Regions from separate parts of the Homo sapiens genome. Here all the other regions are reported to be linked to region 6. The links are microRNA targets in miRTarBase. Many come from high-throughput screens and were not tested one by one. Region 6 holds a microRNA gene; each other region holds the end of a gene's coding sequence.
Evidence for each region. Region 6 holds the annotated microRNA hsa-miR-4789-5p (GUAUACACCUGAUAUGUGUAUG, at 2,601-2,622, opposite strand). A microRNA usually pairs through its seed, bases 2 to 8, with sites in the 3' UTR of a target mRNA and lowers its output. Matches are read on the target gene's strand: a 7mer-m8 pairs with bases 2 to 8, a 7mer-A1 pairs with bases 2 to 7 and ends in A, and an 8mer does both.

Region 1 (5,066 bases), not on the chromosome of region 6:
TAACATTTGCACCTGCTTGGTACGTTTCCACCTGTGATGTTTCACTTGGCCCCTCAGAAAAAGCGCTGCCCTGGGATCTTATGATTCAGTGATGCAAGAGGGATGTTGGCTGGTGAGAAATGCTTATTTGAGAGGGAAGGAGGAGGAGGAGAAAATACTCCCATAGCACTTTTCTTTCTTATTTTCCTTATTTTAGAAAGGCCAAATCTGAACACATTTTCCATCCCATGTAGTAATATATCTCACATAATTTTGGTTACTGGAGGGTACACAACACAAATCTAGCAAGCTTTCAAAATCGATGTGCCCAGCCTAAATTGACGGGCTGTCACTGGGACTGTCAATGATGGAAAAATGAATCTGTGTCTGAGAACGCCACAGCATTTCCTCCAAGCCTTTAAGGAACACACTACCCAAACCCTTGTCACACCGGGTTCTCAGGATCTGCAAGCTGCAGTCCCGTCTTTCATTTCGCTGTGAGCTCCCTCACAGCCCAGGAGGATGCGTTTTCCCAGCTCTTACCTAGCTCTGGTGCTTTGCAGTAAAGTGTATGGAGCCTAGGGCACTTTCAAGCCAAAGGAATTCCCCCTCCCCCCATGACCCAAAACGATGGCATCCGCAGCACTCGCAGGTCTCTCTCCCTCCCTTGGTTGAGGGGGGCGGGCAGGAATCGCGGGCCAACCCCACCTGGCCCGCAGGCCCGCAGCCACGTGCGGGACTCCCTCCTGCTCGCGGATCTCGAGACCGGAAGACGAAGGAACGTGGCCTCGTAGTAAACCGTAGTAAAGAGAGAAGGGAAACAAAATGGGGCTCGTCACATGGTTACGGCCTGGATTTTTCTCAATTAAAAATAAGAGCAAGTGTGTGTTTCCGGCCCCCGTCCGTGGGCTGGTTGGACTTTTTCATTCTTAGGATTCTGATCCAAATGCAAGAATACAGCTGAGGGCACAACGTCCTCAGTCGGCGGGCGCGGTGCAGAGGGGGCCTGCGGCTCGGCCTGCGGGCACCCGCGGGAAAGAGGTGCCAGGCAGGGTGGCAGAAAGCGGCCCAGGGACGCCCGCCCGCCACCACCGCCAGGGGACCCGCGGAGAGCCCCGCCCCGCGCCCGCCGCGGCTCAGCCGTTTCACATGCTGATTGGCTGTGGTGGGGGCCAATCAGCGCCCAACCGCCCCGCCCGCCCGGGACCCAGAGCCGCGCGGCTGTGCCCGAGGGCGGGGCCTCGCCCGCCAGCGCCGACCACGCGGCCCGGGAAGGGGCCCCACCGCCCTGGATGACCCGAGACGGGCGGGGGCGGGAGACCCGAGGGCGGTCTGGCTGCAGATTCCCCCACCCCGGGCGAAAGGGGGCTCGGAAGAGGGAGGAGAAGGAATGCAGGAAGCGGAGGTGACCCGGAAAAGGGAAAGTGCCAGGGCCGAGAGGGTTTGCGCCAGCCAAAAAGGCCACAGGGCTGGGGAAAGGGGAGGGAGGGGAGGCAACCTTGGAGGTACGGAATCCTTGACATCACAAAAAAGGAAACTGAATGAAAAAGAAATGGAAAGAGTCTTTTTCTGTTTTTTTTCTTTTTCTTTTTTCTTTTAAAGGGGGAGGGCATAACAAAGAATGACAAAAACAAAAAAACTGAACCCAAAAGGCATGGCTGGGGTCTGTGTCTTTGTCAGCTGCAGTTTCAAAACTAAAAGATAAATTTGATGCCAGGTAAAGGTGGCAGGGCTGCTATGACCGAGTCTGAGAGGCTCTTTTTGCCCTGCTTCTTGGGCTCTCAATTTACTCTCTGCAGAGAGTGGGCCACAAGTACTGCGAAATTCTGAAAAGGAGCAAAAGAAAAAAAGGATAATGTCAGGAACATGAAATAAGAGGTGGAAACAAAGGGATGGCAGGGGATAGTACTAGAAAACGAGCAAGCCAGAACTAAGAGGCTATGCAAGAGAAAGGGCAGGCAGAAAAGGTCACTGGACTACAGGTAAAGCAGACAGGCTTCCAACAAGTAGAGCTCCTGAGCTCAGTGCTTCACAAGTGTTCTCCTCTTAACAGACAATGAAAAATTTTAAACAAGCCGAGATGTTTCAACAGAGCCCACGCCTCATCATACCTCTATTCCTTTCACCGAGTCTCAGGTTTTACCTGAGAAATGAGGAAAAGAAGCAAAGACAGCAATTGCTGAGGAAGTGAGGAAAATAATGTTTGCACACACATTCGGAGCAGAAGCTGTTTGCCACTCACAGGTCTGACTTCTGTCTGTTTCAGATAGCTATAGAATAACATCTTTGGACTCAACAGGGCACAGGCAAGCAAGCAGAATTGAGGATGTAAATGTGCCAGGTAGCATTTGGTGCCTCACTTTAAACACCAACACAAACATCTCAAATACGCATTGTAGAATTTTCCTGGCACTGTGCAAAGCATGGTCGATTGTTACTCCAGAATTATTAGAAATAGGATTATATGATTATTCCAGAATATTTTATTTTCCCAAAGAAGGTTAAGGATAGAATTTTGTAGAGTTTTTGTTTTTTTAATGCATCCAACACATAGGAGAATTTTATTTTAAAGCCCTTTTTAAAAATGAAAATTCTAGTTGGTCATCAATTCTCTTCAGAGCAAACATCATTTATTCTACTCTATAAAAAGAAACCTAAACAAATTAAGATGACAAGTAAGAAAAACTTATTCTCTTTATCTCCTTTAAAACCAAAATTTTAGTTCTGCTGGGCTGGTTTTCTTCAAATTCTCATTATTTTACCAATGAGGCACTTTATAATACAAATGCTTAAAGTGTTGAGGGATTCTGACTCCCAAAAACATCATTTGATATAACAAGATTTGTACTACTGATGTTGATATACACAATTAAATCTTTCTTCTAGTGAATGATGAAAATAAATGTTGAAGTAAATACTGATCAAATAAATGCTTTTTGTAACATATCACCCAAAATCTTCATTTGAGTGTTCATATACCTTTTTCTTGTTCTATAAAATAGAGAATTATATGGATCAAATATTGGAAACAGAATTAAGAAGACTATGAACACATGATAAATAAATACCTGTCAATAGGAAACCAGGGCACAGATTAATTTCTTATGAATGGACACAAATTAAGAAAAATCAGTGCTTTTAAAAGCTCATTCTGTGGAGCATAGATAAAATTCACAAGATAATCAGTTTGTCAGAGTAAAGTGTTTCCAAATGCTGGAAACTTCTGCATTGCCAACTCATCACATTATTTGCAAACTGTACTCTCTTCTACCCACAATTATGACCACCAGAAAACAGGATCAACAGAACGAAGGGCAGGCTAATTTCCTATTACAAATGTTTTTCATTTTTAATACGGCATTAGCCACAGAAGACCTAAAGCCAACTTTCAGCATTTACTGTGGTGTCTACTTTTGAACTTAAAGGCACACAGCAAATAACCCTAAAAGTGGAGGGTATACAGTTTAGCCCTTCTACTCAATGCAAAACAAAACAAATTAAGGCATGTTCCTGACTTAGTATGCATTCTTCTCAACAAATAAAAGTAATTTTACAGAAGATATATAGTAGCCCCCAAATGATATCTGTAATGTCTCAGTGCAAGAAGAGATAACTATAAGGCAGACATCCTAGGATGAACTCCCATAACTCTTAATAATGGGTCCCAGACACATACAGAGTTTCCTGCATATCCTGTACAAGAGAGGCCAGGCCCGTGGGATGGTGGGTCGGTGTGTGAATAATATTTCACAAATCCTGGTACATGAACAAAAGGAGAACGTCACCCATAATTACTTTCTTGAGAGATCACAAAATAGATAGGTACTTCTCTCTAAATACATATTTCTAAAAAGCTCTTACTCCTGATCTTTTTAGGGCAGGATGAATAGAAATCAATGCTTCCCGCTGCTGTTTATGTTGCCCTAGTATTATGAAATCACAGAACAAAAGTACAGAGAACAACTTGATAAGATCACCCTTAAGGGCTCCCAGAAACTATTAAGATAGTTTAAGATAAGGAAGGGTTTAGCCCCTGTGTTAACAAATATTTTTTGTAGAACTGTCCCTTCCAGGGGCTGACCTAAATATATAGTGAAAAGAAAACTTCAACAAACAAATCAAGCTTCTTACGGAGGAACTCTACAAAACGCAGAACTGGCATAGGATATATGTTTTAAAAATACTGCAGTAACTACTTCACTTGGGAATTCTCAAACGAAAAAGCCCTCCTGTGGCTGCTCCTACATGTTTGTTTGACTCTCTGCCAGATGTCAGTGTGGGGTGAGCATCTTGTGTGCCCTGAGAATGTAAGTGCATTCTCCCTGAGGAAGCAGTGGGAAAGAACAGGAAGGGGCAGAGGCGAAGAACAGAATTCAAGGACAAGGTTAAAAGCAGTTTTGTCTTCTGACTTTGTCACCATGAAACGCACCTGCTGTGATGTCCAGTTGAGCTACTGACGGTCCTCTGGCTGCTTCTGGAAACTGATGCTGGCATAGGCGCTTAAATCCTCACTTGAGCGGCGGGTGGAGCTGCTCTCACCGCTGCCCAGGGGTTGATGAGGGGGTGGGGGTGGGGGAGGCTGCGGTTCAGGGGTGCACTCCTGAGGGCACTGTTTGAAGTCCTTGACCAAATCCAGGTCTATGTAGTTAAGACCATTCTCCAAACCCCCAGCAGCCCCACACAGTTTGGCTGGCTCCTTGGGGGCTCCCCCAAGCTCCCCAGGCCTCAGCCACACATTCTCAAAGGAAGCAGAGCTGTGGCGTTTCACATCCTCGCTGCTGCTGCTGCTACCGCCACCGCCCCCTACTGCTGCCCCCGCTCCAAAGGGCACTGTGTTGCCCACCCGGGTGGCACTGGGTGTTGAGGAGAAAGTCTCGGAGCTATGCCTCCGCCGGCACCCTTGTGGGTCTGCACGGATCACTTTGGCACTCTGGTTGCGGTTAGGACTGAGGTTCACCCGGGTGAAGGCGCTCATGCCCCCAGGTCCTTGTGGGCCCCCCAGCAGGGACGAGTGGGCAGCCAGCTCTGCTGCCCCTTGAGGCCCAGTCGGGGAAGCAGAGGCTGCTGAGGATGAGGAGGCAGCAGCC
Region 2 (5,077 bases), not on the chromosome of region 6:
GTTCCCAGTAAATACCGCATTTCCCTGCCTCCTCTGCAGCAAAGGGAGGCTGGATCGGCTGCAAGGCACAGCCCCTTTGCCCATTGCCCTTCCTTCTGCTTCCTGCCTGAATTGTGGATGTGAGGTTCAGTGCTTCAACAGCCATCTCAGCCCATGAGGCAGCCTCAGTGATGGAAACTGCACTAAAAATCAAGGAGTCTGAAGGCAGAAGGAGCGTGCTTCCAACAATCAGGCAGAAGGAGCGTGCTCCCAACGATCAGGCAGAAGGAGCGTGCGCCCAACGATCAGGCAGAAGGAGCGTGCGCCCAACGATCAGGCAGAAGAAGCGTGCGCCCAACGATCGGGCAGAAGGAGCGTGCGCCCAACGATCGGGCAGAAGGAGCGTGCTCCCAACAATCGGGCAGAATGAGCGTGCTCCCAACGATCGGGCAGAAGGAGCATGCGCCCAACGATCGGGCAGAAGGAGCGTGCGCCCAACGATCGGGCAGAAGGAGCGTGCGCCCAAGATCGGGCAGAAGGAGCGTGAGCCCAGCGATCGGGCAGAAGGAGCGTGAGCCCAATGATTGGGCAGAAGGAGTGTGCTCCCAACGATCGGGCAGAAGGAGCGTGTGCCCATGATCGGGCAGAAGGAGCGTGTGCCCATGATCAGGCAGAAGGAGTGTGCTCCCAATGATCAGGCAGAAGGGGTGTGCTCCCAACGATCAGGCAGAAAGAGTGTGCTCCCAACGATCAGGCAGAAGGAGCGTGCTCCCAATGATCAGGCAGAAGGAGTGTGCTCCCATGATCAGGCAGAAGGAGTGTGCTCCCAACGATCAGGCAGAAGGAACGTGCGCCCATGATCAGGCAGGAGTGTGCTCCCAACGATCAGGCAGAAGGAGTGTGCTCCCAATGATCGGGCAGAAGGAGTGTGCTCCCATGATCAAAGGCAGCCACTCCAGCCCTGGCTTTCCTTCCTCCAGATTCCCTTCACATGAGAGTAAAACAAACCTTTAACTTACTATAAACTTATTATAAATTGGTTTCTTTGAATTTGCAGTCATATGCCATCCAACATAATCCCAGGTCAGTTAGCACAGATGCCCCCTAGAAAAGCCAGATGTGGAAGTGGAGACACCTTTCCCAGGGCTACGGGGATTCTTACCCCACTCACCAATGTCCCTCTTGCATTCCTGGCCCCTATCTCTTCTTCCATGTAACCCTTTCTGTAAAACTGATTAGGTAAAAATCGATTAGGTCTGTAGAAAATGGGCAAGGGCATCATTTCCCTTACCTGGTTTATAAAGATAAAAAATTGGTACACTCCTCAAAGAAAAAAAAATAAGAGGGAGCCACCACATTTGGAAATCCACAGCTGACAAGTAAAGTAGTAGCAATCCTTTTACACATGAAAGGTGCAGTTTGCGGATTGTAAGGTCATCGTACTCGGTGTTTATGGCCAATTTAATATCCGCTCACTGCAAGTGGAATGAGGCAGGAAGCAGAAACTGTGGCCAGTTTTTTCATCACTGTGTCCCCAGGGCTTGGCAGAGAGACTGGCCCATGGTCAGGGCTCAATAAGGATTTGCTGAATGAATAAATGGATGGATAAATACTAATCTTTTTATGTTTAAACTGATGCTTCCTCTCATTATAGTAAAGCCATCAAGGGAATAGTCAATGAATGGTCTCAGGGAATGGCGAGTATTTGTCACATTGTCCCATTCCCCAAACTGCAGGCTTCCCCAGAACTGTCATGAGAGCATCACCTTAGGCCTTCTCGCCCACTCCTCACATTACATGTAATCTGGGCCACATCGTTTAACCTCTCAAGGTCCCCATGTTGCAAAATAAAAGTTGAAGGAAGCGATTCTCAATGTTTCTCCCAGCTGATTCAATCAATTTTGGAATACAGAAGAGACCTTAGTGCCTGAAAATAATCTCTAACCCCAGTCCTTAAGGTTTTCTTACAGTTATTTTTATTATTTAGTTTTAATGAACTAACACAACGTAGGAGGGAACGCTGGGTTGGGGTTTACTTGTTACATGACCTCAGGATGATGTACTACAAACTTCACAGATAGGCACACCTCTTTCACTAATTATTTTTAATAAAACAAAAGATCAAAAATCAGCATCAGGAGATGACACAATACAGTTGAGACTATGGAAAGCAACTATTTCCAAGCTGGGCATCATAAAATACATCATCAAGAACTGTGAACAGATTTGCTAAACAAAGGAAAGCCTCATCCCTTTAACCCTCCACAGCCGACATCGGGAGTCTCTTGGGGTAGAACATGAAGTGAAAAAGAAGTGGATGGCCAGAATGCTGTACATTGTCCCCCAGTGACCTGCCACAGAGACTATTTTTAAAGACGCATTTATCTCAGCAGGAGTGACGGCATTTAAGAAGTAGCCCGGTACTCAGGCTAGACAATCCTGCAAAAGTCTGCAGAGCTTGGCTGCACCCTTTACAAAGACCTGAGTGATGGATGAGATGGGAATTGCCCTTGATTGGCTAGGTGGCTGGTTTAAAGAGCCATAAAGATAATGCAGAAGTGAGATCTTGGAAACCAAATGGAGTTAGCCCCCAAATTATTGCAGCCACCCCAGCACTCCAATGTTAATCCAATTTTAAATTTACAAGATCCATCTTAACTAGAAATGCAGGCTCTAACTGTCCTGCAAGTTTTTTAAGTGGTAGCTGCTCAATGAATTGTATTATCCCATTAAAGAATAATGTTTTAGATGTGGTAATCCCAGACTCACACAATTCTCTTTTATGAACCTAGCCACTGTATTCATATGGAAAGTAAATTACAGCTATATTACATCGAGCCTTTCATTATTGACAGAGCAATAAATGTTAGTACTCCTATAAAACACTGAGAGAAAGATTAATACACAGTGGTATATATATTTGGAGGAATCAGGGTGTCCAGTCAGAGTCAATATGTCTTCTCTCCCTGTACAGAAAAAAAGGGAGGGGTGTAAATAAAAAGGTGAGGGTTGACAGAAGGAGAGTAAACATTTTAACCATTAAAACTGATCTCAAATCGACGGTGGAAAGGTGTCATAAGATTTACCCCTACCAACCCGTTAATTGAGGAAAATTACAGAAAGATGTCCCGAAGCTATCATAGGACCTAAGCATTTCTCCAATACTGAGAAAACACTCGATATAGCCATTATTATTCTGTTTTAAATTTTTGGAGATCTCTGCCAGGGAAAATGTGGCACTTGCCCATTGAGAGCACTGCAAATCAACTCAAACAACTAGTTCTTGCAGGCTGATGTTCATCCGGCCTGGGCAGGTGCAAGTTCACCTCCGCTGGCAGTTGTGCGTAGCTCACTGTCCCCTCCATTGTCAGACAGTTCTGATGTTTTTCCTCTTCCATGCAGTCAAGACTTCAGTCTATTGCTGACCTTCATCAGAGAGGTTTGTCCTAAGCTCCTCCCCCAACCCACACCCCTGTTTATGTTCAAAGCTGGACTTCAGGAAACAGTTCTCTTAAGCACTGAAGAAAAACATATTTGGCATCCACTACACTCCCTAACTCCCACTCCAATGGACTCTGTTTCAAAAGCTCTGGACACATAGCATAGATTTCTCATGAGACCTGACCATCCTAACAAATATGGATTGCATTTGCATTTTACCACTAGAACAAACAAAAAGTATTTACATTTGGAAGAACTGTGGCTACACTTCCCCATCCTTCCCTCAGTCCCCATGTTGTTTGATTCTTGCCTGCAAAGAGTACCAGAGGCCACTGAACACATCTCACATTGTTTTTGGGTAGTGGCAAAGTAAAATGCCAGCACTGAAGATGGTGAGCTTGAGTTTCACAAGTCATCTGTGTAAGGGAGAGAAGTAACTACTCACTACACCTGCACAAAGAAAAGTGCCTGGATTAAGCAGACTGCACAATGTGAGTTTGTTAATTCATCCTCCCAACAGAAAGTTAAATGGCTGTAAGAAATTGTGCTTGCATTTCATTTGATCAGACCTCATTTCCTGGGACCTCAAACACCAAGTTCTCCCAAAATATGGCTAAAATGCTGGCAATATTTGCAGATACCAGTTGTGGAAATTAAACCCAAATAAAGTTATATACAAACTTAGTTTACAGAATAACTATCCCATTCCGTTTCTTTGAATAGAGCAAAACAGAAATAAATATCCTTCTTAAATGTATTACCTAATTATCATGGAAAGCCTAGGAGACATAGGAGAAAAGTAGATCTCTATAGATGTTGCTCAAATACTTGGCTTTCTAGATCAGAGTATCCTCAATGCTACTATGTCAATTTTCGAGTGGAAAATATGATAGGTGATACTTTTAAATGCAAAAATATATACTTCAAGCCCAATCTTCATATAATGACTCTAACTTCCAGCCAAGTTGATTTGTTAAGTTGTTGGGCTCCAAGGAGCTTTCTGGAGGAACCTGGGTGTTTCTGACCCTCTAATTCCTTTTCAAACGCAAGTTAAGTCCTTGCACTTGACTTAGAGAAATGCTTGCTCCTCGCATAGTGTGTGCACTCACTGGAGAATCCTCTCCCTGCCTTGGACTGGGAAGACTTGAAGTTAAACACGCAGCTCTGTGATTCTAAGGGTGGCTCAGGGCACCCCCAAATCAGTCACCTGAGTTACAAACATATTGACAGCTGAAGTGGGTCCTAAACTAGGGGTCACAAAGTCAACTTCTCCTCCCGTGCTATCCAAGGTGTCCTCCGGACCGTGATAGGCAGGAAGTGTGGATGCATTTCAGTGTCCTGGACAAGATTCTCTCGACCTTTCCTTTTCCCATAGGTTGTTCACATCAGGACCTGTTCTCGAGTCTCTGGCAGTCGAAGGGCAATCAGGCCACCCCCAACCAGAGAAGCAGCAGCCAGAAGGATGGGGACCACTTTGGTTATCCCAACAAAAGAAGCAAAGATGGTGTTTCCCAGGATGGCGCCAAATTTGCATAATCCATTGAGAATGCCGAAGGCTGTTGCTCTGTAAAAGAGGAATGGAAATAATTCTGACATTCTGAACCACATTAGATGAACAGGACTGGGCTCTTTCTTTTCCTTATTGCAGGGGGAAGAG
Region 3 (5,077 bases), not on the chromosome of region 6:
TGGTAATTATACCATGTGGAAAAAAATCTATCACATTTGCTTACCTTGACCTACTTTAACGAAGTGATAACACTCATTATTTGCAGCCGTACATCCAAATGTTCCCTATCTCCATGCAAGTTTGTCTCAGCCAGAATAAATGCCCAGTTAATCAGAGGTGTTTAGTTTGCCTTGCTAATGCTCTAATAATGCTGGTGCTTAATTCTCTGTAGCTATTACACAACTATCCTTCTTCCCATAATATCTTTGAAAATAATTGCATCTGTATTTTAATTTTTGCATATTTTTTTTTTTTTACTCAGGGAATAATATACCAAACATGTCATCTAGAAAATAATACATTGACCTTGACAAGGAATGTGAGATAGATGGTAAAGAGCCACTCTTCCACCTCACCATTTGGTCCTCTTCCCAGCTATATCATGGATACCTTCACTGAGGAATCCCTGAATGGTTCCACAGAGCCCCTCCCATCACTGTTGGGCCATGAACTGGAGCTTCCAAAACAGCCTGGGGATGACTGCATATCACAATGAGCACTGGCAGGGTTTTCCACGTGTAAAGAAGCAATGGACTATGATGGTAGTTCACAGTTTGTCCTAAGAAAACTAAATCTTTAGATTTTCCTTTCCTACCTGAAAATATACAAAACATGATATAAATGCTAAGATAAGCACTAGACCTTGCCTCTGAAAAATCCTGAAAACAATATTAACACTAATGGACTCTCCACTATCAAGTAACTCTGGATTAAGGCAGTCTCCCTTCCCTCCCAGTTCTTTGGTTCCCCAGTGTACACCAACCAGAACAAGCCAGGAGTTGGGGGAATATCCTATTTGTCAATGCAATATTCATGGTGCAGCTAAAAAAAATTGCCCTGGACATAAATATCAACATTCTGATTCCAGCTCTGTAATGAACTTCAAACCTCTGGCAAGATATATATCTTTTCTGTGTCTTATTTGCTAAATTAAAAAAAAATGCTTAACCTAATTTTTTTTGAAAGGCATTGGGAAGTTTAAGCCAATAGAGGTGAAAATAATCTACAAAGCACAAAACAATTTTTCTATGGAAATAGAAAATATTACTAAACAAAGTTCTTAGCCTAATGACTCTGATTGTGTATGTTCTGTTGTATTTTTGTTTCCCTTGTTAGCATAAGAAAATAGGAGTACAACATTATTGATTAATAATATTTTCTACTTCCGTAGAAAAAAAATTGTTTTGTACCTTTTAGATGATAGAAGGTACAAAACAACTTTTGTACCTTTTAGATTATTCTCTCCTCTATTGTCTTAGATAAACTTCCCAGTGCCTTTCAAATCAAAAAGTGGAATACATTAAAGCCACCAGAGGATGCTCATGTCATCAGATATTGTTAATACCCCTTCTCCAACTGCATAGCATGAGGGTTGGGAACTCAGATTCAAGAGTCATTCAGACCTGGGAGAAAATCTTGCGCCTGCTATGACCTTTACCAAGTTATTTTCTATTTCTGAGCTTCAATTTCTTCATCTGAAAATGGGGTAATATGTTCATCTGTCAATCTCACCTCATAGGATTCTTATAAGGATTAAATGAAGTAATGCCCATAAAAAGCATTTAACAGAAAACCTGACACATAGTGAGTGCCTGGCAAATGTGGTAAATACTGTCTCTTAACATTTCTTCCTCACAATGTAAATAGACTCTCCTGGAAATAAAGAATTCCAGACTCAATTAAGTTTGGAAGATACTGCTTTAAATTAGTTCTTAGGTGAAGAACCATTAATGTATTCCCGTATGGGACAATTCTTCAAAAAAGAGAGATGATATCTAACACTTGCCTAAAACGTTTGGAGATTAGAACACTTTATTTTTGCAGTAGTTTTGCAGGACTAGGTTTCTGGGGATCATGCTTTGGGAAATCTTGTTCTCACAAATAAGATATTCATAATATTTTCACGAAATCCCAGGATCTCATTCGTCTCAAAATAATGGGGAGAGATGGGGAAGGAAAGAGGTGGATGAGTGTCAACATGAACCACAATATGCTATGGGTTGATCACTATTGAGGCTGGATGATGGATACATGGGAGTTCATCGTAGGATTCTTTCTCTTTTGTACATGTTCAAAAAATTCCATTAAAATTTTTTAAAAGATATTAAACAAACCAGAAATATATATATATGTATACACACATATATGTATTATATATACCTACATACATGCTGTATCTTAATACATACACCAAACTCTAAGAGAAATGGCTAACCTCCCGAGGTCTACAGACCCACTCGAGCAAAAGTAAATCATCTGCTTCTTTCACTAACTTGGCAATGAAGCTCTTCTCATACTTCGGAGCCTAATGAGGTCAACTGTGGTGAATGGCAGTCAAAGGAGAACCCAACTGGGTCATCCAGAGGCAAGTATCATCTCTACTCATGTCAACCTTCTTCCCTTCTTCCCCATAAAGCCTTTTACAGAAAAAATAGGGGAATAGAAATTATATTTTTAACTTAATTTTTTTCTGTCATATTCCTGCCAGATGTGCTACTACAGTCAAAATCAACCAAGGTTTTGACAGGAGGAAAAACAGAATCAGTTCTTGAATAACAGAGACTTGAATCACCAAACATTCAATGGACGTGGTACAACAGTAGTTTTGACTTGAAGACTCATGTTCATCTGTCATTTTAACTGAAGCTGTCTTTTGGGAGTGCCAAGGTTTCTAGCTGCCAGGGAATCCTAAGGACTTGCAATTGGCCTAGAACCCATTTCACTTGCCAAAGTACCTAACTTATTACATTAAGAAAATTCTCTCTCCTGATAACAACAAAATCACCAATCAACTATCACTTTTTGGCTTTTTAGACAAAAATTCTCCCTAACTTCTCTCTTGTTCTAAATGTTATTTTAACCATACCTCACTACTTTTTATTATGCCCAATTAAAGGTACTTGCATATTTGCATCGTGTCTTTCATGGTTTAAACTCACTTTGGCACATTAACAAAATCCTATTATTGTTTATTTAATCTTTAGAAAGTTCACAGATAACTAACCTACCTGTCACCAAGATTTGTGTTTATGCATTAGGCATTTCCCAACTGGACCATTTCACAGACTCCTGGCTGGCCCTTCTCATTCATTCATTATGTGTTTACAATTCACTCAAAATTTACAAGATGCTTAAGTTTGTTTCTATTCTCTAAATTTCCCCTTTCCACTCTCCCCCTGGCCTGGCATAATGACTTTCTTCTTTATGTAAGAGTTACCTTTAAAATTAAGGTAGAGTCTTCTTACTTTGTTTCTGTTGCATAGTTTCCAACAAAGTAAAAAGAAAGAAGGGAAAAAGCTATTTTATTGAATTATGGGGATAATTTCAATCGCATTTGACAAAAAAAAAAAAATTGATTCAGGTTGTCTTAGCTTAACCTCTTATTCTTCAAAGACTTTTGAGAGGAAGCATCCCGAGGAGCTTTAAGTAGGAAAAAAACACATACACAAGGAAGTAATTCAATTTCAAGAACTGGACAGTTTCTGCCTACATGGAACTCACATCTGGGAACCTGCAGTTGGGCTGGGGCAGTAACCTACATATTAACTGTAGTAAGAATATTTGGGGAATAGAAAGCCCACACTCTCCTCACTGAAACTGGAGCTGGCCTGGAAAAACTTGAGAGGTGCTCAGATGCTGTTGTAAAGGCATCAGGGACAAACCCTACTGATGATGCTTCTTATCAGTGAAAGACCCCCCTGCACTGCTTTGCCAGTCATAAAAACAGATTTTCACCAATCCACACTCACCTCTGCCCAGTACATCATCTGCAATAGAACAAATCAAATTACAGATGGGGAGTGTAGCTGCTCCAGTCAGAGACACAGCCTGATCTCCTTGAATCAGGCTTTTCAGGCCAGCTTTCACAAGCCCCAGTTCAGAAGAAAGTGAAGTCCTTACTGACGAGACCGAGGTGTGCACTGCAGGATGTTTAAAGCGTGGGTTTCTGGCACTCTTTAGTTATAACTCTGCCACTATACCAGAATGAGATAACTCAGTTAAGATACTTGGATACTCCTAGGGTGCATCATTGTTTTGATATTCCTTGTGAATTATTTTTTCCTGACAGGGTAAGTGGAGTGGAGGCGAGAAGTCAGAAAAATAACATTTGTAAGCTAATTTCTCTGCATATGCCAGACGCCGTGTAAGCACTTCAGATGCACTCTTCACAACCAGAACATTTGTTATTCCCACTGTAGAGAAGAAAAAATTGAGTTTTAGGGTGAGGCACACAGCCAGTAAGTGGAGAAAGTCCAAAACTAAATTCAGAGCCTAAACATACCACACACACACACCAAAAGAACCAGGATTGCGATGGACATTGTCACTGAGATGGCTTCTCCCCGAACCCACAGAGTCCTCTTTGCAGGTGCATCCTGCCCTGTTCCCTTCCTGGATGTTCTAAAGGCCACAATTCTAGTTCAGGCTCCTTTCTTACCTATAGAATCTCCAAAGTCTCCCAATACATATCCTGGTCTTCTACTCCTAAGCATTGCCTAGAATGAAATGCAAACTCCAAAGACTAACCTGTAAGGCCTTGCAGGATCTTCTCCCTACTCACCTGTACTGCCTAATTTTCTCCCATATACCCTTCCTTTTCATTTTTTAAGACTTTTTTTTTGCCAGAAGAGAGCGTGAACACAGTCCCGCACTACCACAAATTGTGCAGTAGAGTTTACCATATTTGAAGGTATCTCAGGGATCAGCACATCTGTCCTGAAATAGATAAGGCTTGCCATGGGAAAACAATCTTAGGATTTGTGGCGTCTCCCTGCCAGGTACGTATCTTCTCCTACATACCCTTCAATCCATCTGATATAAACTTTTGTCTGTCTTCCAGGTATGACTCAGCTGGGGCTTCTGGTTATGTCACTCCACCTCCTTCTATGCCTGAAAACTTAATCTGTTCTTTAAGCTTTTGCTTAAATAGTGCTTCCTCCTTGAAGCCAAACTATCTCTCCAACCCCTGACTCTGCCTTTTCTGTTTAAGTATAAGCTCCTTGAGGGTTAAATTTGTGTCTCATTCAACATCAATAT
Region 4 (5,069 bases), not on the chromosome of region 6:
ATTTACGTAACATAAAGCATAATGTTTTATTTATTAAAGATGTCTAATTGTAAAAGTGCAAAATAATTTTTTCAGGTGGCATTTCTTGAGTAGTAAAATTGCTAATTTAGAATAATGGTTTAGAGATTCTTAAATTATGCACAAGAACCAGAAATTGTAAAGGGCATTAAGTGCTTTAATTATAAGATGACCTTGAACACAGTCCTTATCAGTTTTCCTTTTTGAACATGTTTTGTTGCTTTTTTGTTTTTTCCTCTAAAACTATAGGTATAAATTACTAAGGTATTCCAAGGAGCGTCAGTACATCGATGGACTGAACAATTTAATATATAGGCCAAAAATACTGGTTGATAGGTTGTATACAAACATATCTGTAAACCTCATGCCAGAGTTAGCTCCAATCGAAGACTATTAAAAGAAGTGGCTGTCGTGGCAAGGTAGACCACAATGCTGGATCATAAACTTGGAGCGCGCTCTTAGTGGAGGTCAGTGATTGGCTGTGTCACAGTGCCCTTTTCTCTGAGAAGAGCCAGCAGTCCACAGTGTTTACAGAGTGGGACTATATACAGTCACCCTTCTCTCACCCGTCCTCCCTGCTCTGAGACACACCCCTGTGGCGAGCACCGCAGAAACGGGAAGCCACTACTTAAGATCGGAAGTTAAGAGAGCTCCCTCCGAAGAGAAAATTTTTATACTAAAATCTATAATTTAATTCAAGAGAATGCTTTTATTTCCGTTTAAACATATTTTGTATATATGTGATATAAATTAATGTGTGCAAATTGTTTAAAAATTAGATGTGTTGCAGTTTTGCATGTAATCGGTTATACCTTTATTGGACTTTTATAGACATTTTTTATTTGCATGAAAAAAACTCACTAAATTTACATCACTAAACAAAGGTTAACCCTTGTGTGAAATGAAGGAACTGTCAATAATTGACAGCCAACTAATACAGTAAACTGTTATACTAGTTTTGAGCTTTAGACCTCAGCCTTTTGTGTGGAAGAAGTCACAGCTTTCTTAGGCTTTAAAGGAAAAGAAGGAAGGACTTAAATAGCTTTTCTTCCTACCGGGATTACCTATGTTTTTCCTTGCTTGCAATCTCATCTGATTTTGCTAGAAATCACAACCATATTGTTTATGCATATTGCATGAGTATTACCAAGAAAAATCTTAAAAGTTGTGATGTGACATGATATAAAGGATCTCTTTATGTTAAATGTCTTTCCATGTACCTCTGGTGTGTCAGGGATTTTGTGCCTCAAAAAATGTTTCCAAGGTTGTGTGTTTATACTGTGTATTTTTTTTAAATTCACGGTGAACAGCACTTTTATTATTTCCAGTTCAGAAGAGCCAAAAAAAAGTATCTTCATTTAAAAAGAAATCAAGTCAGTTTTTTTAAAAGAATGATCTATGGAAGAAAACCCAATAGTACTTATAATATACAAATGAATTATACTATTAGATAAGAATTAAATATTCTATTTTTATAAAGATAAATACTTAGTAGATAAAAACAAATTTTAAGTTTAGTTTTCAGACATAGAATTTCACTTTTGGAGGGGACCCTTGAATGTTAGTTTCATTCAAACTATATTTTGTTTTTTTCACTTTTAAGAGATTATATCTCTGGTGTTAATTACTAAAATTTTCTTTCTAAAAGTATAATTTAATAGAATTATCTTAAAATACATGATCAGTATTCAGTGCGCTGATATTATAATGTCTTCTATATGTAGTATCTAAAAGCATAATTTAATAGCATTGTCTTAAAATACGTGATGAGTTATTTGGTGCACTGATGCCATAATGTCTTCTATATGTAATATCTTACATGTTTGCATGAGTGTCAGGGCTTTGTCCAGTTATCTTCATATGACTGTTCTCTGAAAAAAGGTCTTACTACCTGATATCAAGTACATATCTTAATTTTGGATGAATTTTTCCACAGTAAAGCCGAACAGTATTCTTTTTTGAAAATTAGCAATTATAAAGATTGTTTAAAATATCTTGATATTTTCACAAATTTTAAACAAAAAATTAAATATCTATAAAGTGAATGTTCAACAACAATGATGAGCAATAGAAATCTATATATGAGAAACGTTTGGATAATATTTGCCTCAAGGATTGTTTACCTAAAACAGAACTATGGTTATTTATCTCAGATTGTAAGTTTTATTTTGAAGTGTCATTTTTATGGCAATATTGATAACACAAATGACCACAAACTAAATCATAAAATAATTGAATCCTTACACTTTGAGAAAATGGATAGCTTCTGTGTTATGATACCAAACAAAATATTTTCATATTTATTTCTTAGAACTATTTCCAAAATATTTATATTTCAGTTTTTTTATGGTACTCGAAAAATCAAACCTTCTGAAAATTATGATATTTGTACTTCATTTGTGTATTAGTTCATTTTCTGTTTCTATTACATAGTTTTTAAAGTCAATGAAAGAGATTGAGAATGTTAACATTTGTTGATCAATGTGGAGCTGTCCACATTCGGTATCTTTTCATTTTTATATATATTTTACAGTTTCAAGAAAACTTAGTACTACTAGTATCTGCCTTATTTTCTTAAGTCTGATGTTAATTTTTGTTTCAGGAGTGAGATATAAACATTTTGCTTTTTTTCAGTTTTGAAATATAGTTTGTCATCCTGTGAAAACCACCTCGTTTGCTTTTTGTTTGTTTGTTTTGCTTTTTTAGTGTAGACCTAAAATTATTTTTGCCTATAAACAGTGAACTTAATATGTTTCTGTGAGAGTGACAGAGCTGTGCCCGTTTATCTTCATTGTATTAATTATTACATAAAGATTAACAAATACATTGCAAATGCAAATTATAGGATGTTTGGAGGATTTATTAATGAGCATGTATTGATTGCCTATTCCATATCCAGTGCAATGCTAGGTATGTCTATGGAAGGAGTATTATTACTTCATTTCTAAACAAATGAAGTCAAGCAAATTGAGATCTTTCTGAAATTATGAAGACATCTTCTGATAACTTATCTGTTGTATTTCCTAGTCTCAAAGTCAAGAAACCCGTATATGTGGACCTAGGGCTAATAGGAGGTCCCTATGGCACTAACTGGGAAAATTACATGGTGCTTTTCAACTACAGAAAGAAGTAATGACTAATGGGCCTGTCTGTAGAGAAGAAAAGGAGAAGAGTACACATTTGCTGGAACTATATATAATTCACAGTGGAGATAGTTAATTCTTTGCTAAAACTAGGGTTTTATGAGTATTTTTTAAATCTACATTTAAGTTTTTGTTTTTGTGAAAAGTTATTCAGTAAGAAAACTTTATAATATTAAGTAGATACAGTTATGTATTAAAAATTTCCTTATATACCCTTTTGCCAGCCAAGATACTGATATTTTAAAACAAAATGGAAAAATGTCCAATACAATATTCTCTTTCTGGAGGCTTCCTACAAGTGAAAGCAGATTTTGTCATTTTATTTGGCCTTTGCTTGTCTTTGATATATTTCTTTATGTGTTTTTCAAATACATACTGTTGTAGATTTATTGTCTTGTATTTGCAAGTATGCCGGTTGAGAGAACTAAAATGGTTATAGTATTGTTTATCAGAAAGAGGAAGTGTACTTAAGATTATTTTATTTATTTAGATGAAAGGCTTCTACATAAATGCACTGAAATAAATGCTAGTAATTTCTTGTATCCCACTTCTTTTTTTGCTTCTCATGGAAATGTTTGTACTTTTTTATCATTGTCTTTTATGAAATATAATGTTCTAAAGACTTTGTGTGAAGATGTAATTATTTTCCTCTCAGGAACTTTTTTGGGTTACCTGGGATTTTTGTTTGTTTGTTATCCTAAATTTTAAATGAATTATTGATGAATATCTTGGTTGACAATAGGGTTGCAATATAAGCATAAGGTAACCACAGCTTAAATACAGGTGGAGATCACCTTATTCCTTTTATCTCAAAAAGTAGTATTTAAGTATTTTTCATTAGTACAACAATTAGTAATCTATTATATCAAGATAAATATTTAAGAATTCATTTTAGCATAAATTTTCTTTTTCCTGCACAACTTCAATAAACTAAGCTGGTGTGTTATGCTCAATTTACTACTTGTTTTTCAGGTATCGATGATTTTTAAGGCAAAGAGCCAAATTTCAAAAATACCTAGGGACTAGATTTGTATTTGAGACTAGATTGTAAGATCATGAGTTTTATCAACTTACTAGTTGTGAAATGAGTTGTAATTACTCTATGTATAATATGATCTATAGGGATATTGTCACTGCATGTCATAACTAAAACCAATCATTAAAATCATAATCATTTAAAGCCGTGAAATTTAGTCAGCTTAGTCTGCCCCACTATGGTACTAATGTGCCCTCTGGTGAAAACATAGTAACTCCATTTAATGATCATATATATATGTGTGTGTGTGTGTATGTGTGTGTATATATGATCATATATACCTGATATTCTATATACACACACACACTGTACACACACACACTTTTTGTGCTATCTTTAGACAAAGATTTAAGGTGGTTGGGTATGTTCTGGACCAAAATTTTATTTAGAGAAGTCTGTTCTTAAGGAGCATGTACTGTATTGCTCTTGATTTAAGCGACTTCAGAAAAGTGATTTGCCGCTCAACTATGCAATGAAAAGGAAAAAAAAACGGTGTGAAAAATAAAACTTGCATCTTTCTCAACACATTCCGCTAACAGATTTTGGTTGCATGCCCTTGCTAATACAGTCTTCCCAATTTTATCAGTTTAAGTATGTGCTCTGGAGGATCTTGAGAGGTATCAGACATTACCTACCCTCAAGGAGTTTACATCCTCTCTGTGTAAAACTGATGTAGCAGAAATACCTGAAGAATCACATGCTATCAAATGAGGGGCTCATTTCTGTCCTTTGCAAACGTTGATTGTCTGTTTAACTAATTGAGCATCTTTGCAGGAGCAGCTTTTCTCCAGCACGTATTTCTCAGCTGTAAACATGTACTTCAGAAGGAGATGTTGAGATAATTGTTCTTCTGCAATAGACCTTAAAAATTT
Region 5 (5,077 bases), not on the chromosome of region 6:
CACATCCTACGCACAAGACACAATATTAGGTACAGAAAAGCTATAAAGATAAATGTGACACATTCTTTACCATTAATAATAATATATATTATCTAAAATTTAATTTGAGCTAATATATAACTGACAATGAAATATTTGGACCACCTAAAACAAGGATAAATTATTCTGTGACAAGTTTATATTCTTGCATTATGCAAAAATGATTCGAAAATAAACTATTTTTTTCCCAGAAATTGTATGAGCTATACATTGCTATGTAACAAATTGCCCCAAATTTAGCGGCGTACTACAACAAACACTTCTTATCTCATACAGTTTCTGAGGATGAGGAATCCAGAATGGTTTCCTTGGGTTTTCTGGCTGAAGGTCTCTCATGAAATTACGGTCAAGCTATTAGACAGGGCTGCAGTCATCTGAAGGCTTGACTGAGGCTGGAAGATCTACTTCTAAAATGGCTGTTGACAGGAGGCCTCAATTCCCTGCTGGCATTTGATAGAAGGTCTCAGTTCTTCATCATGTAGGTCTTTCCAGGGCTGCTCAGGACATGGCAGTTGACTTCCCCCAGAGCAAGTGGTCCAAGAGAGAGCAAGGAGGAAGCCACAGTGACTTTTATGACCTACTTCAAAGTCTCACAGTCTCTTCCATTTTCCTGTATTAAAAGTAAGTCCCTAATTGCTAAAAGAGTACATTTTTAAATGTTCTCACCACAAAGAAATTATAAGAGGTTATGGATATGTTAATTAGCTTGATTTAATAATTCCATAATGTATACATATATAATAATATAATATTGTACCCCATAAATACATACAATTATTATTTGTCAATTAAAAATAAAATAAAAAGACGTAAGTCACTAAGTCCAGCCCATTTTCAGGATGAGGAAGATTAAGCTTCATCTCTTCAAAGGAGAAGAATCAGACTTTATGGATATAAAACTACCACAGAAGTGATGTTAATGTCTCATTTGAATAATTGATTTGAAATTTTTTGCATTTGGTAGAACTCTGTGCTTGCATGTGCTTGTTACTTTTTTGTTCATAAGTTTTAAATAATAACTTTACTATTTCCTGATGTAAAAAGTAACAAATATAAACTATAGAACACTTAATACAGATAGGGAAGTTAGAAAAACATGAATCACTCATAATTCTACAATGCAGATATAGCCATTTTTAACATGTTTTTATTTCTTGTGTGTATATATATGCAAATATTAGTGTTCACACACACAAATACATATATATATACACACACATACATATATAATATATATGCCTTAAGTACATAATAAATATTTTGGAACATGTGTATGTGTATATTCTTATTTAGATATATAAGAATTTACCCCTGTAATTAAAATTACTTGGAAACAGAATTTTAATGGCTACATAACAATATACAAATAAATGTTTATTTCCCTCTTTTTTTTTTTTTAGAGACGGAGTCTTGCTCTGTCGTCCAGGCTGGAGAGCAGTGGCGCCATCTCGGCTCATGCAACCTCCGCCTCCCGGGTTCAAGCGATTCTCCTGCCTCAGCCTCCCGAGTAGCTGGCATTATAGGTGCCTGCCATTGCACCCGGCTCATTTTTTGTATTTTTAGTAGAGGCAGGGTTTCACCATGTTGGCCAGGCTGGTCTCGAAATCCCAACCTCAAGTGATCCACCTACCTTGGCCTCCTAAAGTGCTGGGATTACAGGCGTGAGCCACCGTCCATGGCCTATTTCCCTCTTTCATCTTTTAAAATAATTTTCTGAACATTTAGGCTTTTTATTTCCTTTTGTCACAATAAATAACAATATAAAACATATCTTTGCAGAATGTCTTTGTATCTCTGGTTATTTTCATATGATAGGATCTTACAAGTAGAATTATAGGATAAACAGACTACTAAATTGCCTTCAAGAAAAATTATATCTATTTGTATTTTTACCAGAAGTTTGAGTCCCCATCTCATGGTGATTTATTGAGTATTTAATGTTATCATTTCTTAATCTTTGCTAATAGGCCAAAATGTGTATTTATTTATTTATTTTACTTTGTACTTCGGTGGCATGTCAGTTATTATTTTACTGTCTCTCAGCTCCACATTCACTGTTGGTTGCCCGCTCCGTGAAAATAGATATAGACTCTTGAAATGTTTCCTTTGCAGCTTGCATGATGGCATACTTTGTCAGTAGAGGGCGCTGGAGACACACTGCAAGAGGAAGGGGTCTTTCCTGATTCCTCCAGGCTGACAGGCCAGGCTACTGGAGAGCAGGCTTTTTTCCTTCACTACTTTGCCTGGAGTGGTTTCTGCAGTGCTGGTTGCCTGTAGGGTGCAGCTTTCTCCAGCATTTCTCCACTTGCTTCTCTAGCTTTTGCTTTGGGCAGTGGTGGTATAACCTGGAGCCACAGTGCAAGCCGGTCCTGAAGCTCCAATTGCTGCTCTCCATTTCTTCTCTTCAGCTGGGTGCACACTCATACAGAGGACCCTGCTGGGCTGGCCAACTACTGAGCCACTTGCCTGAGCTTTGTCTTGTGCAGTCTCGTCACACAAAGTTATGCTAGGTTCCTGCAAAGTAGGTCCCTCCGGCTCCTAATCCCAACAGTGCCTCGAACAGAACCCGTGACTCCTTCTTTGTGCTTACCCTTTGGCAAAGCCCCAAGTCCCTCTGCATATCTGCCCACCTGCCTCAGCTGGTCCACACCTAGGGGGTTGGCTGTACCAGCTTGTCCAGTATCTGTGGTCCTGCTCTGGCCTGGGCAAGCCAGCAAACTTCTCTCCAGTGGGCTGCAACCACACCTTCTCCAGTGAATTCTGAAACCCTCATTCCTGCCTTTCCTTGTTAGGATTCTTTCCCTCAGCCTTAGGGTACCTTCTCTTTTCATCTTTATTATTATTCTCCTATCATAGCTTAATTATTATTTATATTAAACTTTCCCTGTTTAAATTACTACCTTGTTTCTGTCTTCTGATTGATACAGACTAACACAGTTGTTCACTGTTAAGATACGACTTTTTTCATATACTTAGTGGCCATTTGCATTCTCTCTTCTGTGATTTTTCTTTTCATATCTACCTTTTTTTTCTATGTAAGACTTGGTTCTTCTCTTATACATTTCAGTCTATTGAAGACTAACCTTTTGTCATGTTCATGGCAGGTACATGACACTAGTTTTTTATAAGTATGTTGAATTTTAACTATTACATTTGCCTCATTTAAGTGAGATGAGACTATTTTCTTATTAATATTGACAGGTGAAAGAATAGCGATGCAAGCCTCTGGTTTACTCAGTAAGAGAGACTTCTTAGGCTTGAAAAGGCCATAGCACACTTTCACCTTCAACCAGTTTAGGTTTGGTAATACTGAGAAGTAATGCCTTTGTCTTAAAAATGTTTCATATTTTAATATTGTTAATCTTCCAGTTGGGTTTACTGCATATAATCTCATTCCTTAGTACATGTAATATGATCAATTTACTACAATGCTTATGAGGAATGCAAATGGAATTAGTTTACAGAATGAAAGAATGTTGCATATAATTCCATTTTAATACAGAATTTATAAATAAAATCATAGTTTATACTTATAGCATTTCTTCATTTTTAGTGTTTTTTTTTCAAGTGGGTTAAACAGATCTGTGAGTACCTTGAGAGTTGTCATGTAGAATAAGATGCTAAGAGGGCAGAGTTTGGGATTCCCTATGTAACTTCAGCTACAACAGCCTTGCTTTATCCATTGTATTCATTCAGCAACAAATAGGTATTTGTGGGCCAAGTCTTACTTTAGCCGATGTAATATGTCTATGTGATATAAACATTTTTTTGAAAAATAAATAAAGAAAAAGTTCAATTAACTTAAAAAAGAGCTTAAGAAAAGCTTTGAACTGATGAAAGGTCTTTCATCAGCAGAAGAGAGAGAATAAAAGGGCTGGGGGGAGGTTCAGAAAATTTCAATTAGGATTTCTTAACAGAGTCCATAATTTTTCCTTTCCAAAGGCCAGACAGCTCTGATGTTACAGATAGTCAGAAGTCAACAGGCCATTTAAGATAGTCCTAGATTTTATGAAAATGCCAGAGTTTTCAAGAAGCTACTGTCACTATCAGGTAGATTCCTTGATGGTGTAAGACTGTATTTCTTTTTCATTCCAAGAACTGGCAGCTTCTTTTTTCTGAGTCATTTCTGAATCCATTGATTATGTTTCAGTTCTCTTGAGAGTCCAAGCTAAATGAAGTTTAAACTGCTTATCTGAAGACACCATTTAAATTTGAGTTCATTACATGGTTTACTATAAAAGCTATTTGGCATATGCAGTATTCAAGCTTATTTCAGTTACTGAAACTAAACTCAAACTCATTTTGTCCAACTGTGAACCCTAATTAACCTCATCACTTCAAAAAGAAATGAGCTTTTTTTGACATTCAATTTTCTACGATTCAAGTCTCATATATGTTCGTATAAATGCAAGTACAGAACTTATGCATTCATCAAAGAGTAATATCTCTGAGTTTTTTGAAATGTTTTAGCAATAGAAGCTTGTACTGCTAAACTGTTGTCTCTGTTTTTATTACTAGTTTATTTTGAAGACATTTCAGTATAATCGCCTTTTCTTTATTGAATCTGAAAATGAGAAGAAGAAAGACTATTAAAAATTGGACATATTTTGTGCATTGGACATATTAAAGAACGGAGTATCCAATGTGCATGCTCTTGACTTACTTTGTTACTATTCTTTGAATCTCTCTTTTCTCTTCTTCATTTAATCTTTGAAGAATGGATTCCAAGAGAGAAAAGTGAAAGTTAATGTACTGAGCCACCTAAGAAAGAAGAAGAAGAAAAAAAAAAGAAAGCAGAACAATTATGCAAGAGGTGCTGAGTCAGGAGGGAAGCAAAAAACAGATTCAGGGTGATGGTATTCATACATCACTGCTAATTTCTTCTGCATCTTTATCCATGAGGAAAATGCGAGCATTCTTTTCAGAAGGTCCCTGTAGGAGCCTCTGCAGTAGCGGAATGTCTGTCTTCTTTAGTCGTCTTTGTTCTGCAGTGAAAACAAGAATCAACCACAATCAGAAGTTCATGCTGCAGGAAAAG
Region 6 (5,077 bases):
CAGTTCAGTAAAGTCTGCAGGGCAACACGCCAGCTACACTAAATGAGGTCTGCCTAGGAAGCAGTGGAAAAAAAATTTTGTGAACTCCTAAGGGTTATTCCTTTAAACTCTAAGATGCTATGGCTGGACTTTTTTTAGAGTAATTATATTTGTCTATTTCATGTTATGGTAGGAATTTGCCCTAAGGAAGTAGAACTAGTTTAGCTCAGAATGGCAATATTTCTTCTAAAACTTATTAGGAAACTAGAAGGAACGCTTTGTGGATGTAGTTTTCCTAAAGGTCATGCAGAACTTCCAGGTATTACAGATTTTGAAAGATGAATAATAGCCATTTTAGTGGTTATCTTTTTTTTTTTTTAATAGATGGAGTTGTCCAGGCTGGAGGGCAGTGGCATGATCTTGGCTTACTGCAACCTCCGCCTCCTGGGTTCAAGTGATTCTCCTGCTTCAGCCTCCTGAGTAGCTGGGATTACAGGCCCCTGCACCACACCCAGCTAATTTTTGTATTTTTAGTAGAGACGGGATTTCGCCATCTTGGCCAGGCTACTCTTGATCTCCTGACCTCAGGTGATCCACCCGCCTTGGCCTCCCAAAGAGCTGGGATTACAAGCATGAGCCGTCGTGCCCAGCTCATATCATTCTCAAAGGACTTTTGTAGCACACAGAATGGTTTCTAAATAATATTATCCATATCTTGACTAACACGGTGAAACCCCATCTCTACTAAAAATCCAAAAAATTAGCCGGGCGCGGTGGCGGGCGCCTGTAATCCCAGCTACTCAGGAGGCTGAGGCAGGAGAACGGCGAGAACCCGGGGGGCGGAGCTTGCAGTGAGCCGAGATAGCGCCACTGCAGTCCGGCCTGGGCGAAAGAGCGAGTACTCCGTCTCAAAAAATAATAATAATAATAATATCATCCATAATATTAGTTGATAGTCTCTTCATAATTCTAAATCCAGCATTTTTCAAAGCATTACCAATGAAGGAGAACTTTTAAGATGAAGCTAAATATAAAAAAAAAGTGAATTACTGCAAATTACTATACATAGTATAATTTGAAATTTTGGTAATATTGTCTAAGACAAATCATCCTTTTGGGATAGTTTTTTTCCATACTGTTCAAACTACCCTTCATCCTATAACGGCAGACATGGCCTAATGATTCTCATTTTTAATCAACAGTGTTGTCAGACATTTCAATGATTCTGAACATAATGTTATGACATTCAGGGCCAGAGAGCAAGCATTCTCTACTTGCTCTCAGCTGAAAGCAAAGAGGTTCTCAAGAGCTGCCAGCCTTTCTCCTTTATGCTCTGAAAGCCTCCTAAACTTGTCAGTTTACTTCCATTACCCTTTTATTGAAAACAATGAAAGAAAAAAAGTTACTACGGTGTTTATACTTTTAAAGTGAATGTCTTTTGTAATAAGGTAGAAATATCACAGAACCATCGAATGTTGGAATCAGAAGCATGTTTGGCATATCATCAAGTACAATAGCCACATCCTGCCTATGTGGAAAGCTGGAGGGGCTAAAGGACCTCTCAAAGCTACACATGTAGAGTCAGCAGCAGAGCAGAGCTTAAAGCAGCAAGTGACTCTTACGGCCATCAGTAATCACACTCTTGCTTAACATGCAAATGAATAAAGCTATTTTTATAAAATCCCTCCCCCCCCCATATATTGGCAGTAACTCTAAATTCTAGTCATTTTTTAACCATTACAGAATAAGATTAGAAGCATCAGTAGTTAATGGTGATAATAATTTCCATTTTATATGGGGTTTTATGGTTCACAAATATATTTTATAAAATAAGTTTCTAACATTTCATTTTCTTATATTGAGGGCTTTTAAAAGAAATAACCAAAACCTATTTTATTAAAATTTGATATTTAAAATTATAGTTGAGAATAGTGGAAGATTTTTCCCATTATCTTTGCTCTCCTGGATAGCAACCAGATAAATGACTTCCCAGAGAAATGCATAGAGTCATATAAGATAAAACGTCTTTTTTTCTCCATTTTACTCAGAGTTTGATGATGAACTATGACTGGATATTGAAATAATCATTCTTTTATCCTTTGTAGTAAGGCTTACTTTGTCCAGTGGCAACATGATCAGACAAGCAGCTCTCAGATGACATGTGACAATATTAAATTCAATCTTAGCAAGCAGCTTCTCAATTTCACACTTGTGGTAGCTGGATTAACCCAATTATTTTTTGGAGGTTAAGGGAAACTTTCACATTTGCAGAATACCATCCTTCAGAAACCGGAATGTAGGATTTTGTTATCTCAAAGAATTTTATGGAGATGGAAAGATCAGTTAGTATTAAATTTTAGCACACAATCAGATGAAGGGTTTAGGAAGAAGTAGATATGATTACCTAATAATTCACTTTGAGTTCTTCACTTTGAGCCTCAAAAATGTGTGAAACTTGGGACTTTTACTAAGCATATCTTTCAGGCAAAATATTTTCATTGTACCAGTTCCAAGCTCTTGGTTCTAACACAAAACCCCTGCTACACATACACACACATGCACTCACACACACACAGGCTACCTATATATACACCTGCTATGTGTGTGGATATGTATTTACACATACACATATCAGGTGTATACATACGTAGCATGTATATATACACATACACACACACGCACACAGGCACACACATACTTGTTACCTATATATGTATACATGCACATATCAGGTGTATGTAAATGTAACATGTATATGTACACACACGCACACAGGCACACACATACTTGTTACCTATATATGTATACATGCACATATCAGGTGTATGTAAATGTAACATGTATATGTACACACACGCACACAGGCACACACATACTTGTTACATATATAATTACACATGCACATATCAGGTGTATGTAAATGTAACATTTATATATACACACGCGCACACAGGCACACACATACTTGCTACATATATATACAGTCAGGTGCTGCATGATGACATTTTGCTCAAGAACAAATCACATACATGAGGGTGGTTCCATAGATTATAGTGGAGCTGAAAAACTCTAGTGGCATTGTTCTCATTGTGACATTAGTGCAATTACTTAATTTTTAAAACAAATTTAGTGTAACCTAAGTGTACAGTGTTTATAAAGCCTACAGTAATGCATAGTAACGTCTTAGGCCTTCACATTTGCTCACTGCTCATTCACAGATCCACCCAGAGCAACTTCTACTCCCACAAGTTCCATGAAAAGTGCCCTATACAGGGGTGGCAATTTTTTTTAATCTTTTATATCATATTTCGCTGTACCTTTTCTGTGTTTAGATATGTTTAGATATACAAATACCACTGCATTGTAATTGCCTACAGTGTTCAGTACAATAACATGCTATGCAGGTTTGTAGCTTAGAAGTAATAAGCTATACGACATAACCTAGTTGTTTAGGAGGCTACACAATGTGTTTGTGTTATGTGCACTCTATGATGTTCTCTCAACAATGAAGTCACCTAATGATGCATTTCTCAGAAAGCATCTCCATTATTAAATGGCACATGAACGTATTTGCTACATATATACATACTGGCTATAAACACACACACACACACACACACACTCACACACACCTGCTACAGTCCTTTCAAAGTATAAAAAAAGATACCAAAATGTGTTAGAGATTCGTTTGTAAAATGTAACTATTTTCGGACCAGATGGATTCACAGCCGAATTCTACCAGAGGTACAAGGAGGAACTGGTACCATTCCTTCTGAAACTATTCCAATCAATAGAAAAAGAGGGAAACCTCCCTAACTCATTTTATGAGGCCAGCATCATCCTGATACCAAAGCCAGGCAGAGACACAACCAAAAAAGAGAATTTTAGACCAATATCCTTGATGAACATTGATGCAAAAATCCTCAATAAAATACTGGCAACCCGAATCCAGCAGCACATCAAAAAGCTTATCCACCATGATCAAGTGGGCTTCATCCCTGGGATGCAAGGCTGGTTCAATATACGCAAATCAATAAATGTAATCCAGCGTATAAACAGAACCAAAGACAAAAACCACATGATTATCTCAATAGATGCAGAAAAGGCCTTTGACAAAATTCAACAACGCTTCATGCTAAAAACTCTCAATAAATTAGGTATTGATGGGATGTATCTCAAAATAATAAGAGCTATCTATGACAAACCCACAGCCAATATCATAATGAATGGGCAAAAACTGGAAGCATTCCCTTTGAAAACTGGCACAAGACAGGGATGCCCTCTCTCACCTCTCCTATTCAACATAGTGTTGGAAGTTCTGGCCAGGGCAATCAGGCAGGAGAAGGAAATAAAGGGTATTCAGTTAGGAAAAGAGGAAGTCAAACTGTCCCTGTTTGCAGACAACATGATTGTACATCTAGAAAACCCCATTGTCTCAGCCCAAAATCTCCTTAAGCTGATAAGCAACTTCAGCAAAGTTTCAGGATACAAAATCCATGTACAAAAATCACAAGCATTCTTATACACCAATAACAGACAGAGAGCCAAATCATGAGTGAACTCCCATTCACAATTGCTTCAAAGAGAATAAAATACTTAGGAATCCAACTTACAAGGGACGTGGAGGACCTCTTCAAGGAGAACTACAAACCACTGCTCAAGGAAATAAAAGAGGACACAAACAAATGGAAGAACATTCCATGCTCATGGGTAGGAAGAATCAGTATCGTGAAAATGGCCGTATTGCCCCAGGTAATTTATAGATTCAATGCCATCCCCATCAAGCTACCAATGACTTTCTTCACAGAATCGGAAACAACTCTTTAAAGTTCATATGGAAGCAAAAAAGAGCCCGCATCGCCAAGTCAATCCTAAGCCAAAAGAACAAAGCTGGAGGCATCATGCTACCTGACTTCAAACTATACTACAAGGCTACAGTAACCAAAACAGCATGGAACTGGTACCAAAATAGAGATATAGATCAATGGAACAGAATAGAGCCCTCAGAAATAACGCCGCATATCTACAACTATCTGATCTTTGACAAACCTGAGAAAAACAAGCAATGGGGAAAGGATTCCCTATTTAATAAATGGTG

Region 1: the mRNA of IRS1 is a reported target of hsa-miR-4789-5p. The part of its 3' UTR that is shown has no 7-base or 8-base seed match.
Region 2: miRTarBase lists SV2B as a target of hsa-miR-4789-5p. The part of its 3' UTR that is shown has no 7-base or 8-base seed match.
Region 3: the mRNA of OPN5 is a reported target of hsa-miR-4789-5p. Seed matches in the 3' UTR shown: 7mer-m8 at 2,173-2,179.
Region 4: miRTarBase lists B4GALT6 as a target of hsa-miR-4789-5p. The part of its 3' UTR that is shown has no 7-base or 8-base seed match.
Region 5: the mRNA of RASSF6 is a reported target of hsa-miR-4789-5p. Seed matches in the 3' UTR shown: 7mer-A1 at 3,094-3,100 and 7mer-m8 at 1,247-1,253.

Annotation. Positions count from the first base shown.
Region 1 is chr2:226,790,581-226,795,646 of GRCh38, forward strand. IRS1 (insulin receptor substrate 1) reads right to left here. Exons shown (of 2, transcript NM_005544.3): 1 at 4,409-5,066. The coding sequence ends at 4,430. Among named protein-coding and RNA genes, the nearest start is that of IRS1, 6.7 kb to the right of the region's middle. RefSeq lists a silencer at 819-1,508.
Region 2 is chr15:91,292,276-91,297,352 of GRCh38, reverse strand. SV2B (synaptic vesicle glycoprotein 2B) reads right to left here. Exons shown (of 13, transcript NM_001323032.3): 13 at 1-4,984. The coding sequence ends at 4,801. Among named protein-coding and RNA genes, the nearest start is that of CRAT37, 170 kb to the left of the region's middle.
Region 3 is chr6:47,823,139-47,828,215 of GRCh38, reverse strand. OPN5 (opsin 5) reads right to left here. Exons shown (of 7, transcript NM_181744.4): 7 at 1,835-4,233. The coding sequence ends at 4,225. It also overlaps the pseudogene RNU1-105P. Among named protein-coding and RNA genes, the nearest start is that of OPN5, 44 kb to the right of the region's middle.
Region 4 is chr18:31,620,960-31,626,028 of GRCh38, reverse strand. It overlaps B4GALT6 (beta-1,4-galactosyltransferase 6), which reads left to right. Exons shown (of 9, transcript NM_004775.5): 9 at 268-3,783. The coding sequence ends at 415. Among named protein-coding and RNA genes, the nearest start is that of TTR, 32 kb to the right of the region's middle.
Region 5 is chr4:73,571,708-73,576,784 of GRCh38, forward strand. RASSF6 (Ras association domain family member 6) reads right to left here. Exons shown (of 11, transcript NM_177532.5): 9 at 4,906-5,024; 10 at 4,703-4,800; 11 at 1-4,603. The coding sequence ends at 4,528. Among named protein-coding and RNA genes, the nearest start is that of RASSF6, 46 kb to the right of the region's middle.
Region 6 is chr3:175,367,097-175,372,173 of GRCh38, reverse strand. It overlaps MIR4789 (microRNA 4789), which reads right to left and starts at 2,634; the gene lies at 2,553-2,634. The region is part of intron 5 of NAALADL2 (N-acetylated alpha-linked acidic dipeptidase like 2); the gene reads right to left.